Regions from separate parts of the Homo sapiens genome. Here regions 1 and 2 are each linked to region 3. Evidence: fine-mapped expression QTL. A gene starts in region 3. Each other region holds a variant in brackets. All regions are shown on one strand. Distances are from middle to middle.

What was found. PIP is the estimated chance that this variant, and not a neighbour inherited with it, causes the effect. A credible set is the group of variants that fine-mapping cannot tell apart.
Region 1: its variant is the best candidate, but not a certain one, in a credible set for the expression of JAK2 in whole blood (TOPMed, PIP 0.68).
Region 2: its variant is the best candidate, but not a certain one, in a credible set for the expression of JAK2 in whole blood (TOPMed, PIP 0.86).

What each region holds. Positions count from the first base shown.
Region 1 is chr9:5,076,717-5,081,716 of GRCh38, reverse strand. JAK2 (Janus kinase 2) reads right to left here. Exons shown (of 25, transcript NM_004972.4): 15 at 4,137-4,264; 16 at 3,273-3,411; 17 at 1,337-1,488; 18 at 1,034-1,184. It also overlaps a transcript of INSL6 not described here. Among named protein-coding and RNA genes, the nearest start is that of JAK2, 94 kb to the right of the region's middle. The variant G/C (reference allele first, on the strand shown) is at 2,493.
Region 2 is chr9:4,936,833-4,942,458 of GRCh38, reverse strand. No RefSeq gene overlaps it. Among named protein-coding and RNA genes, the nearest start is that of JAK2, 46 kb to the left of the region's middle. The variant A/C (reference allele first, on the strand shown) is at 2,605.
Region 3 is chr9:4,982,468-4,988,093 of GRCh38, reverse strand. JAK2 (Janus kinase 2) reads right to left here and starts at 2,822. Exons shown (of 25, transcript NM_004972.4): 1 at 2,464-2,822; 2 at 2,072-2,154. RefSeq lists enhancers at 2,020-2,069, 2,870-3,009, 2,938-3,771 and silencers at 2,400-2,729, 3,120-3,199, 3,240-3,289, 4,740-4,869.

The sequences.
Region 1 (5,000 bases), 94 kb before region 3:
ATAAAGAATATTATCACCTTAAATTAGCAAATAACATTCTCTGGACTAAACTGATATACATTCAAGTTGACCAAAATAATCGTGAGTTAAAAATACTAAATGATACAGGGAAACTCAAATAGTTTCAATTATATTAATGGGAGCCTTTAATCATTACCCATAATCTGACAGGCCTTCAAGAGAGACTTTGCAAAGGATAAAATTTTGTTTTCCAAAATAAGAAGTTTTAGTATTCATAAAGTAAGGTAATATACTGATACTTATTGTGAGAAAGGTGAGTAGTACTGGGGTAGAAAGCACCTATAGGTCAAACACATGCATTTCAGCTCAGTATTTTGAAAAAGGAGAGAACAAAGCAAAACAAATACAGCTCATGTTTAGAGAATCAATCAATTATAAAATATGAGAAATGTTAAAGAGAATTGTTTTTTAAAAGTCAATTTAAGCAAAAAAAAAATACTATAATTTACAACTCACTAAATGGAAAACTAAAATTAGGTTACTGAAAGAAAAGGTCTTTTTGGCTGGGAGCGGTGGCTCAAGCCTGTAATCCCAGCACTTTGGGAGGCCGAGGCGGGCGGATCACAAGATCAGGAGATCGAGACCATCCTGGCTAACACGGTGAAACCCCGTCTCTACTAAAAATACAAAAAATTAGCCGGGTGTGGTGGCGGGCGCCTGTAGTCCCAGCTACTCAGGAGGCTGAGGCAGGAGAATGGCGTGAACCTTGGAGGTGGAGCTTGCAGTGAGCCGAGATCGCGCCACTGCACTCCAGCCTGGGCGACAGAGTAAGACTCCATCTCAAAAAAAAAAAAAAAAAAAAAGAAAAGGTCTTTTTATAAAAATGAAAATAATTCTCAGTCAAGGAGATTAGAATATGTATAAAGCATGAAAAGCCATATGAACATAAGAAATTAAGAGGGCCCAAATGACATCAAGAAAATGTTTTAAAGGAATTAAAAATTAGTAATGATTCATTAAATACAATAAAGATAGAAAGCTGGAAAATCAATAAGATCATTCAAATACATACCTGGAGTAAACAAACTGTTAAGATCTCGTATGATGGCTCTGAAAGAAGGCCTGAAATCTGGTTCATAATCCATACAATTATTTATAAGGTTTGCTAATTCTGCCCACTTTGGTGCAGGAAGCTGATGCCTATCTTCATAAAATTGTAGCTTCTATAATTAAAGAACCACAAACTGAGAATAAATTGTGTAATGCCACACCAACCTTCTTTTTAAAATTAGATGGGCTAAAAAATACAAATCATGTGAAAGAAATATGAAAGTTCAGAGATAGAGTAATTCTAACTTAGTCTATATAAACTTACTCTTTGAGAATCCAGAGCACTTAGAGGTTTATCTCCTCCACTGCAGATTTCCCACAAAGTGGTACCAAAACTCCATTTGTCTGTTGCCAAATTTAAATTTTTAGGATTTTCAATGCATTCAGGTGGTACCCATGGTATTCTCTCCTGAAGAACTTTTAAATGATACGAACAGAGTAGGGTTAAATAATTCACAAGTAAACCAATCTTTTATATGTAAATAGCTTTAAAGTTCAAATCATTTGAATAATCAGGCCTATTTTCTTTATTTTGGAGGGGTTGGATGTGCACATGCACATGACTGCATAAGCTTAAGAACCAGAAGGGACCTTCAAGATCATCTAATTCAATATTTCATCTTTAACAATGACAACATGGAGACATATGATTGAGTAATCTGCCCAAAGCCACACAATTTGTTAGCAGCAGAGACAGAATTAGAATCCTGTACAGTGAGTTCTGAATCAACTAATCTTTCCATTAAACCATAGTGTCTCAACTGGCATACCATTTTCTCAACCTCTTTCCATTAGTTTTACCTTCAAAAAAAAAAAATTTTTTTTTTGAGACAGGGTGTCACTGTGTCACTCAGGCTAGAGTGCAATGGCACGATTGCAGCTCACTATGCTTTGACCTCTTGGGCTTAAGTGATCCACCCAAGCGCTTTAGGAAGCAATCAGCCTCCCAAAGCATTGGAATTACAGGCATGAGCCACTGCACCTGGCCAAATCTTTTTTTTTTATATAGTTTATCCTAAAATTGCCCCATGATACTTTTTGGTATTTCTTCATAATGCGTAAGTAGTAAAGGTAATGTTACATCATTCAGAGATGTTCTAATGATTTAATAGCCATGGCAATTCCCACTTGCAGATAAAAAAAAAAACCCAAGGACCAACAAGCATTTATGGCAGATGGAAGGCTAAATTGCACCAAAATATTCTAGATATATGGAATTGATATAGGTGGGCTCTGCTCAAATCACGGAATTTCTCAAGTAAAGTTTCTGTGGTCTTTGATTCCACCAGAAGGACTGTATTCAAGAAAGGAAGAAGCAATATAACCCTACTTTCTGGTATTCTGACATAGACAGACAGACAAATAGATTGATTGACAAATACCTTCACCATATGAATACATTTTTTTCCATCTTCACTTCC[G/C]ATTCCAAAGGATAAAATTTTCCAGGATACCAGATGTAAGACCCTGTAAGAATTTTCTGCCATACTCCCTACTCCTGTACTACTGCCCAGTTATCACTGTCTTCACTGTCAGATAAGTCATTAAGTTTAAGTACTATTAGCTTAAATAGGACACATCAGTGCACAAAAATTGATCAATTTAGAATCTAAATTTAGAACATCCAATTAGAGAAATTATCTAAGATAACAAAATTCAGTTATAATTATCTAGACCCAAAAAACCCCTCTCAACTATCTGACTGAAATTTGTATTTTTAACCCACTGTGTTAAGTAGTAAAGATGAACAAACACAAATCAAAGTTTTTTTAAGGTTTTAAAAAGTCAGAATTAGCTGGATAATTAAACTAATTTCTTCACAGAGGATAGAAAAAAATCCTAAAATCTCAGGCTAAATTTTTATTTAGTGACGAGAAGAAAAGAATATTTAGAAAATTTACTTGTGGCTCAAGGAATATTACAAAACTTCATACTAAAAATGGATAAAATCCTATCCTTCATACATAATTAGAGATTAAAACTGTTTTTAAAAAATCACCTCACAGTCCATGGTTATATGCTTATAAGAAAGAAAAATAGAGACTAAGATTTAACTAACAATTTAAATTGCTAAAAGTGATAATTTTATTATTAATCAGGAACATACAAATTAAATGGAATTCAAGGAAAATTAACAACATGCCCTTTACACCACTGCCCAAGTAAAGCTTAGTAACATTATATATAATCCTTCTAGAACTTACTGTCCTTTGGCAAAACTGTAATACTAATGCCAGGATCACTAAGTTTGATGAAAGGAGGATTTCCTGTCTTCCTGTCTTCTTCTCTGATAAGCAGAATATTTTTGGCACATACATTCCCATGAATAAGGGTGTTTTCTTCCTATTAGAGTTAAACGCACATATATTCAAATATCAGTCCACAAGTACTGGAGCATTTAGTATGTTCAAGCCCCCAAAACAGATTTAAAGAAGAAAAATACATGATAGTATAATAATTTGGAGGCATGCATTGAGAAAAAAGGAAATTTATGACTCCTATGCTTCCTGTTTTACATTTTAAATAACACAATAATCTATGCTTGTGATGAAATGAATAAATTAAAACTACCAATGCCATTTCACATGAGTTCTAAGGCTGACATGGTTTGTGTTTCTGGATGGGAGCTGACATTAAGAAATACTACTTCAGTTCTGCAGCAGGACATAGGTGCACCCTGAGGGGTCTGATGACTGGCAGTCCCCCTGGTATTCTTCTCTGTCAACACCGCTTTCTCATGGACCATAATGTACAATGGCCCAAAAATACAGAAGCACATACTTCTGCATAATTTTTGGTTGAATTTTCTAAATCCAAAAGACACAACATACAGATTGTCTATTAGTAGTTCTAAGATATTGATGGGATGACAAAACTTTTTTTTCAAAAGTGATTTTACATACATAAACATATGCCTAAAGTAATCTCTTTTTATCACCTAACACAGACTATTTTACATGAATTGGCATCCAATTACAGATTTATTTTTTGTTTCCAGGTAAAGATAATTTGTATATTGTTTTATAAAATAAAATAGTATCTTTTGATAAAAAGGTTGTACTACTTACTAGAAAATGCATGGCCCATGCCAACTGTTTAGCAACTTCAAGTTTCCATAATATATTTATACAATTTTTATTCTTTTTCAGATATGTATCTAGTGATCCAAATTTTACAAACTCCTGAACCAGAATATCTGCATTAAAATATAAGTAATAATAATAAGGCTTAAGTATAAATATAATTAAATATATGTAATTTAAATCTTTATACTTACATGTGACCATTATAGGTAAAGAAATTAAATTGGCAAAACTCACAACTTTAAAGAAAACTTAATGGATACACAGCATTATATTTTTGGTTTTTAGTTTACTTACAACAGCAAGAGTAGGAGTCTAAACAATTATATATTATTATATATAACATAAATGTATAATATATAATATACCAGCACACCTTTATATATTAGTACTGAATTATGGCTGGTTTTTAAAAATAAATGAAAATTTCTCAATTTCTCTTCCACATAACTTTTTAGACATTCAAACCTTCCTGAAGTTCTTCTACACACAAAAATTACTAACAATTGTCTATAGTACTATAGACATAAAGGAGAATTTGAGTTCTAGCTCCATTTAATCTTTTAATTCTGCAAAAAATACAGAAATGTTTTGCGCTGCTTTATCTTTAAAACTTTTTTAAAAAAATATATAAAACATATTTTGCCAGAAAAACAAGTGTTGGCTTCCAAAAACAATCCTGGATTCCTTCATGGTCCACAGGAGCCTCTCAGATACCTCCATATAACAGGTTCCAAACCACTGCTTTTGAGAAGATTATCAATTTTCAAAGATATGAAAAAATGTCATACAAGTGTAGATGTGTATTTAATCTGCATTACTAGTGGAAAATAGGGAATTATATAAACA
Region 2 (5,626 bases), 46 kb after region 3:
TCCTTTCAGAGTACATTTTACTCCCTACTTACAAACTCCTATAAACAAGTGTGTGTGTGTAACCCAAAGCCAGAAATCCACCTACAGGCCGGGAACAGTGGCTCATGCCTGTAATCCCAGCACTTTGAGAGGCCAAGGCGGGTGGATCACTTGAGGTCAAGAGTTCAAGACCAGCCTGGCCAACATGGTGAAACCCCATCTCTACTAAAAATACAAAAAATAAAAATAAAAAAAATAGTTAGGTGTAGTGGCACACACCTGTAGTCCCAGCTACTAGGGAGGCTGAGGCGCAAGAATTTCTTGAACCCCAGAGGCAGAAGTTGGAGTGAACCAAGATCGCACCACTGCACTCCAGCCTGGGTGACCAAGCGAGACTCGGTCCCCAAGAATAAACAACAACAAAAAAATCCACTTACAACTAGACCAGTTTCTACTTGGCTAAACACCCAGGATAGTCAAAGCTGGACCAGTTTCTACTTGGCTAAACACCCAGGATGTTTAGCTGTCCTTAAAATATATTGATACTGCATATTCTTTAAAAGAAATATATGGTAACAACTATTTTATTAAGTTTTCATTAGTCTAATCGAAAAATAGGATATTTTTCACACATGGAGATAATCCTACCTATTCTGCAAGTCAGTAGGTATTTCTTTCCAATTATTTAAATTAATCTGTTTGTACATTGTCCCTATGGTACATTAGATCATTGCTCTCAATTCTTTACCCCCTCCTTCTGTCAGGTGAACTTCTAATGGGAGTTATTTCCCTCTCTCATTGATGTTGGGCATAATTACATATGTGATTTGGTTTGATCAATTAAATGATAGCACACATGAGCATAGGCCTTAAGTAGTTTGACTTGGCCTCTTTTTTTTTTTTTTTTTTTTTTTTTTTAGACAGGGTCTTACTCTGTCACCCAGACTGGAGTGCAGTGGCACAATCTCGGCTCACTGCAGTCTCTGCCTCTTGGGTTCAAGCAATTCTCCTGACTTGGCCTCTTGCCTTTCATAATCCACCAGGAGAAGAATATGCCTCAGATAGCTAATGGGATTTGGGAACATGTGAAGCAGGCCTGATCCCAACTTGAGGCTTTGATATAAGCCCAGCTGTCCTGCAAAAGAAGCAGAGCATCCCAGATCATCCACAGGCTCATGAACAAGGAAAATAAAGGCTTATTTTTATGAGCCACTGAGTTTTGGAGCTGTTTATTACTCAGCATTGTAACAATAGCTGACTAATATATCCCATATTTCGTGTTCAGTGACATATATATCTGTGAAAATTGATTGATAGAATCATATCCTTATATTAACTCTCAGTCCCGCAATATGCAATGACAAGGAGCTTTGAAGACTCAAATAATCAAGTACAACCCAATGACCAGTGTTTTTTGCTAATATCAATGGGGACCCCAGACAAATAATAAACACTAGATAATATTCCATAATGAAGTTGGAGAAGAAGTAAATAGAGTACAAGAATCAACAAAAATGTAAGAAAATCCTAAAACCGTAAGAGCCTTATAAAAATAGCTGGAGTGGGCAAGAATGTGTGAGTTTAACCAAGCCATCTGCCTTCTGCTCCGCTGGCAAACAATTCAGTTATACAGTACAGCTCTTGATTAAATATAAAAACACTTCTCCCACCCTTTTTCTGTCATAATAATAATTTTGGTGCATTTCTTTGTATACATTGTTTTTTATATACTGCAAGAATTTTTCATGTGGCTAAAAACTACTGAGTCTCAATATTTTTCTGATTCGCTACCATTGACTTACCTAAGATATTTCCACTAGGACAATATAGATTACATATAATGTTTTTTTCATAATCGTTATTTGAAATGGCTGTATAATCTTCCATTGAGTGGATGCACCATAATCTAGTTAAACTATTTCCTGTTGTTAGATTTTAGGCTGTGACTAATTTTTCACTATTATGAATAATTTTCCTGTGAGAAGTGCAAACCGTAGGCATATTTTTTTAATCTCTGGATTATTTCCTTAGTACAAATACCCAGGAGATTCTACTAGGTGAAAGGATGAGAATATTTTAAAATCTCCTGATAGCCAGGTGCAGTGGCTTGCACCTGTCATTCTACTTACTTGGGAGACTGAAGCAAAAGGATCCCTTGAGCTCAGGAGTTCAAGAACAGCTTGGGCGACATAGCAAGACCCTGCCTCTAAAAATTACTAAATAAATAAAACTAAAAGATCTCAATACATATAGCTAAATCAATTTCTAAAAGACGTTTCTAATTCTACTGGTAATGTACTATAGTACTAACAAACATTAAATATTATTATAAATGTTGCTATGCTTTGTAGCCAAATGAATGGAAGGGGTATCTTATCACTTTTAAAATTAAAAGTGAGGTGGAACATTTTTCCATGTTTGTTAACTAGATGATCTCTTCTTCTCAATATCTATTTACTTTATTATACCACGAAGGACTTGAAGAGCTTTCAAGTAGTGTTTGTCAGTAAGAAAACATACTCTTTTTGTTTCTTTTTTATGTAGGTGTTTTGTGTGGGTCACTCCATGGATTCATAGGTGAATCTATTCCCTCAAAATGAATCTATTGGGAACATTCTTTAAAAA[A/C]AAACAAACAAACAAAAGTAACAGAGCAATAGCAAGATCTTTCTGAAAAAGAAATTGCTGGCACATTTTACCAGCATTTACCTTGATCCAAATCATTGAGTTTAGAGAGAGATCCAGTCAATTTAGCAAATCAGCCAAAAGCAACAGTATATGACAGATCAAATTCCATTGGAACAAATACCACACAGACTGGGCAATTCCAGGGGCAGATATAAGACAAATGAGGGGAAGTTGAAGGGAGATAAGATTGTTGGCTGATAGAAAGGAATTTCTAACAACTAACTCGAGCCCCAAATAGACAACAAAGGAGCAACAAAGATGCAAAGATGGTCAGGAGGAGTTTGGAGGATTCATGCAGGAGGGTGTGGGAGGCCTTGTGGTGAGTAGACTGGATAGGACCCCTAAAGTCCCTTCCAACTCTATTTTCCTTAGAGTGGCCCTTGGACCTGAACTTCCTGGTCCTGGGAATAGGAGATTGCTTTGTACAGGACAGAAAAAGAGGAAGAACCTGTCCCTCTCTTCTTGAGGGTGGGGCTGACCATAGTCAGAATTTTGAAATAGAGTTTATCTTTGGCATCTTCTCACTTCCCTTTCTGTACTTTTGCTTACCAGCTGCCCAGTATTCCGATGGGGGTGTTAGCCTCTAAGCAGTGCCACTCCTGCATTACTTCTTTCTCTTTAACCACTTCAAAACTCCCATTCTCTTAACACAGCTAACCTCAGCTAGCTGTTGAAAGGAAAGCAATCTGTTTGAACCATTTCACTCTAAAGCATGACCGACTGATAGTATCATGATCTTCCCAAACAGATACGAATTTTCAAAACAAGATGTTTCTAAAGCCAATGGCATCTTTAACAACATGTGGTAAATTAAACCCCACTTAATAACCCTTCTGAAGTTCAAGTTCCAGCTACATTAATTACTGTCCCTCAGTATTGAGGAAATTACTAGGCCATCCTGTGTTTCAATATTCTTATCAGAAAATGAGGAAGAAATACAACTAAACCATATAATTTATATAAGCTGCCTGGCATAATGCTTGACACATGGGTCTTATTGTTAGTTATTATTGTCCCCTTTGCAGTCATCCATGCAGAGGTGTAATCATGTATTTCTTACTCTCATAACGCATATTCCTTGGGCTGGGAGGTGAGTCTCCAAGTCAGAGTCTGGGCAGCTGACATCCTTGTTGTGTAAAAGGAGGATTTCCTCAAGTTCAGCAGCCTCTATTATCCTTTTCTATCACATTATTTCCTGCCATTACATTTTTTTCCATTCTCTTTACTTTGTGTTTTATTTGTTTGTTTGTTTGTTTGTTTGTTTGTTTGATGGTTGAATTAGGAAGTTAAATTTTGATTTGAAAGTTTGGTTAATTTATTCTCCATGTCTCTTCTTTTCTGATATGGACATTGAAAGCTATAGATTTCCCTCTGAACAACATGTTGACCATACCCCACAGATTTTGTAGAGTAATGCTTCTGTGCCCATTCATATTTATGTGATTTATAATTTCCATTTGATTTTGTCCTTAGCCCAAGAGTTATTTCATTATTGATTTGTAATTCATAAACAGTCTTATTATCTCTATATTCTTATAATAAATAAATGTAGCACTTTAGGCGTTAGAGGGCCAGCAAGCATTTGGTGGCTACACAGCCTCTTCTCTTCATCTTTAGAAATGATGGATCTCAAAAATTTCCATTAAGTACAGGTATGCTTTAAATGAAAATATGCTTCATTAAACATATTTTCAAAATAATGCAGTATTGTGCTTTCAGTAAACCACAGCAATAGCTATCCATTTAAATCATATCCTTCAACAACAAACCAACTTTGTTCTGTTAACATGGTGAAAAACGATAAAACCTATAATTAAAATAAAAGTATGCTAAGCCAGAAAAATAAAAATTGTGTGTGTGTGTGTGCACGTGTGTGTGTAAGAGAGAGAGAGAATGGGTGAGAGAGATTTATCTTCAACAATAAGCTAAAATTTGGCAATGTCTTATTAGTGGTTTCAGCCAAGGAAATCTAATTATGTAACTGTTGTTATTTTTATAGCCACATTTGTGAGTTCTCTAATGATTTTAAGATTGCCTTATCTTAATGAGAAAGCAGAACTGACATCCTCCCAAACTGGGCTAGTTGTTTACTTATTTGAAGATTTATCTTTTCCCTACAAGTACTAGAGTCCAAGTTATCAGCACGTTAATGTGACAGTTAAGAGGCCATACTCCACTGTATATTTGGATTGTATGGGGTGACCAGTGCTCTGGTTTGCCCAGGACTGGGGGTTTCCCAAGATATGGAACTTTCCATGCTAACATGGGGACAGTCCCAGACAAACAGACACTGTTGTTCACTCTACTTATTTCCCAACAAGTCAGAGCATTGTCCAGGCCCATCTTAACAAGCAGGTACACCAAGCTAACTATCATTGACTTTGTATGATTCAAGGACTACCAGGAAGACCATTCTGTCCCCCAAATTACCCACAGACTCTAATAACACTATCCTCTTTTCCAGCCGGAAACCTCTACCATTAGAGTCATTCCTTCAGTTTTCTTTTTACCTAAAATTACATATCAAAGACCTAGGCATTATCTTCAAAAGGCCTTTATTACAAAGCCCAAATCTGGAAAATAAGACAGTTTCGGACTCTGACATTTACTACATCCCAGGTACATTGGACTACTAAGATATAAGACATTTTTCTACCCATAGGACCATCTGATACAGGTGGGAGGGAGATGTGTGGTAAGTACTGTAGAGCAGCAGACATAAAGTGTTACAGGAGTGGGAAGGGGGATCCCTGGGTGATGGTAGCAGAGGGGAAGTCAGGGGTTTCAGGAGAGATGTGGTGAATGCAGAACTTAGGCCCACAAGATCTCATGCTCCAAAAATAGGCTGAGGGAGAAAGCCATGTCCAAAAAGCAAAATGTCCCTACTTTACCAAACTCTACTTTAAAACTGAGTTTTGAACTCAGAAATATCTTCTTTGACCATTAAAAAATCCTAATGTGA
Region 3 (5,626 bases):
GCACAATAATTGGTAGGGGCAACACAATGGGGGTTTAAGCAGAGACACAAAGTCAAACCTTTCCATACAAAGGCTGTAATACTCCCTCACCAGTTTAAGACCTTGAAGTCCTTTATCTCTTTATACTAGAAAGGAGGAAACACGAGTTACAGGCAGATCACCTTATGCAGTCATTCTGCCCTTCTCTGAATCTCCTTTGCCTCCCAGCCGTGATAGTAGCCAAGACTTTTATGACAGCCAGGCAGTTTACCACTTTGCATGTGTCTTACTCACTTCTCACAACAATCTTATAAGAAAGTGAAGCTAAAAGAGTCGTAAATAATATAACTCTTTTTTTCTTTCTTTTTTTTTTTTTTTTTAGACAGAGTCTTGCTGTGTTGCCCAGCCTGGAGTGCAGTGGTGAGATCTCGGCTCACTGCAACCACCACTTCCCAGGTTCAAGCAATTCTCCTGCCTCACCCTCCCGAGTAGCTGGGATTACAGGTGTGCACCACCACGCCCGGCTAATTTTTGTATTTTTAGTAGAGATGGGGTTTCACCATGTTGGCCAGGCTGGTCTCAAGCTCCTCACCTCAAGTGATCCTCCTTCCTCAGCCTCCCAAAGTGCTGGGATTACAGGCGTGAGCCACCATGACCAGCCGTAAATAATGCAACTCTTAAGTGGCAAGAACACCAGGATTCAAATCCAGATCTCACTCCAAAGCCAATGCACTTTCCTATTCTGCCTCAAAAGCATCCCACCTTTCAGTAATAGCCAGGTGAAAGAGAAACAATGTCATATTCCCTTCCCATATCTGAGACACCTGTCTCAAATCACCAAAGGCACACACACACAAAATTCCCTAATGAGTCCCTAAAACTGCTATAAATTGCAAATACAGGATATTCAGTTAGAGCAAAAACAAGCATGGTGTGCTCTTCTGGCCAGCAAGTACTGCAGCTTTCCTATTCAGGTAAATACATGTACTATTAAGGCAAGTGCTGGATACATCCAGTCTGTACATACGTTACACACCAACAGACAAATGCATGTACAAGCAAATAATTCTCACACTTAAAGTGGTATAAGGTGAGGCGGATGGGGGAAGGGAGGCCAAAAATTGATTATTCATCTTCAAATGTTCTGGGTGTTATATCAAAATACAAGCTGATCATCCCTTATCTGAAAAGCTGCAAAATCTGAAACATTTTGAGCACCAACATGATGCTACAAGGGGAAAATTCCCCGCATAGGTACTTAATACAAACTTTGTTTCATGCACAGACGTATTAAAAATATTGCAAATGACTTAGTGGCTGTGTGAATAAGGTCTATATGAAACAAACGAATTTCGTATTTACACTTGGGTCCCATCCTCAAGATGTCTGATTTTGTATATGCAAACATTCCAAAATTTTTAAAAAAAATCCAAAACACTTTTGGTCCCAAGCATTCTGGAGAAGGGATACAAAATCTTTATTTGCAGTAGCCCAACAACTCACTGTACAAACTTATTATGAAACCAAAAGCAATCATTTCCCTTATTCCCACTTCCAGTTTCCTTCTCCATACTCAGCCGCTCCTACCCTTTCATTCAGAGAAATGGAGTTTCTCCTAACAGATTAGTAATTACTGGAAAACAAACTGGGTAAATTCAACCGACACAGCAAGCTTAGGCAGATAAAACCATGAGGAAACATTCAATGTGGTAGCAGAAACCCCAGCAAGAATAGCTAACGTGTTCTCCCAAAAGCTATCTCTTATTGCTTGGAAATACTCCTCTTTAAAGGATTAAGAATCTCTGGCTGCTTAAGAAGAAAGGGTAATGGACAACGTTTTTCGTTTCTCTGCAAAGTCACGTTATGTGTAAAGCCAACAAAAAAATGTTTCTTAAAGGATCCAAGACGAACAACAAAACACCCCAAAATTACTCTCCCAGATCAACATTAAAAGTTTAGCACTGACATTTTCAGAAGAGTAAGCAACAATGAGCCCTGCCTCTCTTCACACGCTTCCAACCTTCCCTACGCACGCACTCCCAGCTCCAGACACCTTCGCCTTTACTGCAGCGATAAAGGACAGCACACCCACCGTCGCGGGAGGAGGAGGAAGAGCCTCTTTTTCTGCAGAAGAGAAACAGTTCACATCTTGTTCCTGTTGCCTGCTTCTGAAACCTAAAAACAGAAGCAGCAGTTAACTACTACCACATAAATCCAGGGGAAACAAATGCTTTTTCTAGGCTGTTTAAGTGTCTAGAAAATTTTAAAAAGGAATAAGGAGGCGGGAGCGAGGGAATTATAAGACACAAATGGAAGCAAATATCACCAGCAAGACTCGTTCTAGGTGTCGTCTTAAAGAGGAAGATTTTTCTGGCTCAGAAGTTTGCTGCCACTAGCAGGGGGCAGGCGGGACCAAAAGGTAGGAAGGGGGTGGAGAGACAGCTGCTGCCCCCCACCCAGAAGCCAGGCAGAGATAACACCCACCGGCTACACAGATCGGGCGACCAGAGCGCGCCCTCGAGCCCGCAGGGGCGGCTCCTACCCGGCGGGTCAAGGTCTGCGAAGCCCCGGGACGGGCACGGCTCTGAACGACCTCCAGGCTGGGCCCTCGGGGGCCCTCCAGTGTGGGCTCAGCTCCCACTCACATCCCTCGGCAGCGAGGACCAGGCCTCTCCCTGCGCCGCAGCAGCCCTCAGCCCCGACGCGCGCCGCAAGCCCGGGCCGAGGGGCCCGACCGGCCGAGAAGCCGAAGTGGCGACGCGAACACCCAAGCGAGCCGGGCGCCGGCCCAGCCTGTCAGCGCCGAGGGAGGCCGTTAGCGGCGTCCGCTGCTGCCCCCTTCTGCTCCTCTTCCTCTCTCCTTCCTGCAGCCCCACACCACTCCCACTTCGGGCAGCCGGGAAGCCCGTCACAGTTGTCTCCACCCTCTCCGGGGCCACACCGTCTTCTCAACGCCGCGGGCGACACTGGCTTCGCCGCCCTGCTAGCTTCGAACTCAGCCTCCCGGTTGGCCTGCAGTCTCCCCGAATGGCAGGAGACCGGGCCGGATAGAGGCTGGGGGAGAGCCGGACGCGCGTCCTGCAGTGCGCGTGCGCCGCTCGGTGCTGGTCGCGGGACCGGCAGGCGCGGGCCACGCAGGGCAGCTGCCTCTCGGGAAGCCGGCGAGCGCGCGTGGAGATTCCTGGGACGGCCCCTGGGCGTGAGCGCGCAAGGAAGTTAAGGCGGCGGCGCCTCGCGAAACGCTGGTGCCCGGCTGGAGCTAGGCGCCAGCGCTGGGCCCGGCCCTCACTAGATGGGCGGGTGTGTGTGTGGCCGCCGCCCTCCAGGGAAGCGGCCGGGAGTGACTCACCCTGGCTGGCTCCCCAGCGCGCAGCCTGCACTGGAGGAGGCCGGGCTGCCTCCGCGCGGAGACTCCCCTCCCGCACACTTCTCCGCTTTCGGCTTTTCCTTCCACCTCCCGGGTACAGCAGACCCGTCCTTCCCCAGTCCAGGCTGCTAGGCCGAGGGGAAGTGGCGCCGGGGGCCGGGGACAACGCGCTCACACACGCTGTTTCGTGGCAATGCGCCCTCGAGAGCCTGACTCCCATCAGCCACCTTGGCTGGAAAGGGGTGAGGGTGGGATGAAGCGCCCAGCCGCCTGCGGGTTGGCAACAAGGCCTAGCGAATGTTTCTCCTAGAGGAGAAACAACTTTACCGGCGTGGCCTGGTGTAGCCCGGGAGAGGGTGGAGACAACGGCTGTGACGGGCTTCCCGGCTGCCAAAGGGCCTCATTCATTCATTCAAATATTTACTGAGTGTCTACTAGGTGCCGGGCTGTAGGTCCCCAGAGATACCAGGTGAACACGACCCCACACACTCCTTGCCCTACTGGATTGTATTCTGATGGAAGCGACAAAACAACAAACAACGCTTTAAATGCATAATGTGCGGGGTGTGTAATTGCCACTAAGAAAATGCATAGTTTTCTGCTGCCATATACATAATAACAAAGAAAAGGAGTAGAAAGTGAGGAGGGGGTGTGCTATTTTACGGTGGCCAGGAACGATTTCCTAGAATAAGTGACATTTGAGCAGAGATCTGAAGGATGAGAATGAACCAGTCCCATGACTATCTGGGAAAAGAATTTCAGGCAGAGGGACTCCTGAAGGCAAAGACCTTGAGAAGGGAAAGTGTTTGGCAAGTTCAAGGATCAGGAAAGAGGTCACTGTGGCTGGAGGACACGGAAGGAGGGGGCAGTGGTAAGAGGTGAGGCCAAAGAAGTAGCCTGGCACCAGATCGTGTAGGGATTTTTTTCAAGTATTAGCCCTCTTTCTGTCAACCTAAATGAAGTGACGCATTCATAGCTCCTGTTTCCCCATACACAACTGATGCTGCTCTTCAGGTCTGTCTTGCACTTAATGGTTTCTTTAAATAAACCTCACCAAAGCAACTCCTGCATTTCTTCTTACATAAGACCCATTGCAAAAGGTCTTTAAGCAAATGATAGCAGCATAGGAAATTACTTGAATTCACCCTGAATCTTTTAAATAATGAACTAGAGCTGTATAAGAGGGAGGGATTTACAGGAAAATTGCATTCCTACGGCTACTGCTTCATAGGTAATATATGGGCAAAGTTAGTAAGAATTTCTAATTATTAATTGTGACTCAATGGCTTAGAATATCAAGGCCGCAATTACAAACAGTGACTACCAAAAGAGTTCCTTTTTTCCTGCAAACAAAAACTGCTACTGAGGTAAAAGCTAGAACACAGACCCACATAATGAAGAAGAGCTAAAGATGAGCTTAACGTCATGGGTAAATGAAAAGCATCACAACTGTGGAAATGGAAATGTGATATTTTGTGAGGGGAAGAAAATGCTTGTTTTAGAACTCTGAAACAGTATTACTTTCATTATAAGTGATGTTTCTATATTTTGCAGTGATATACTTATGTAACTAGGCATGGTATCTCTTACTGTCCACAGCCTGTTTGCAGGGAGAAGCCATTTGAAATTGGTGAATTGCAGGGAGAAGCCATTTGGAAGTGGTGAATATTGAGGATATTTTTGTGGGGGAGCAGGTTATTTTCTTAATATTAGAGATGTGGGTATGGAAGACAAGGTGGACAAGGGGTATATTATTCATAAGCCTATAGAATTGAGAAATCTTCTGTCTCCCCACATAGAAAGATGAAGCAACTTGCCTCCTGTCATTCAGAAAGTGAAAGCCTCCCTCATCACTAAGACATGATTTTAAGTCAATGCTAACCTGGAATGTTGAGCTTTTTTCACTCTGTATTAACAGAACTTTTGAGCTCTTTATGTGATTCCTGGTAGTGGCATCACTAGAAATTTGCTACTCAAGGCAAACATTTCAGGAAATTTCCCTTATTCTTTGATAATGATGAAAAGAATTCCAAGGAATTTGACCAAGTCTTTCAAAACATTCATACAATATGAAGAAACAAGAAATATGAGCTGTAAGGTAACACATTTAGATTCAAAACTTTGTGGCAAGATCTAATGGGAAAACTTAACAGCTAGTTGTTGACTGTGGGGCTGTGTGTAGTGTCTTGAGGTTTTGTCCTTCCAGTGTTGGCCAGCATGGCAGCAGTGATTCTTGACTGCTATGCCCAAACCTTCCCCCCACCCCAACAAGACTGCCTC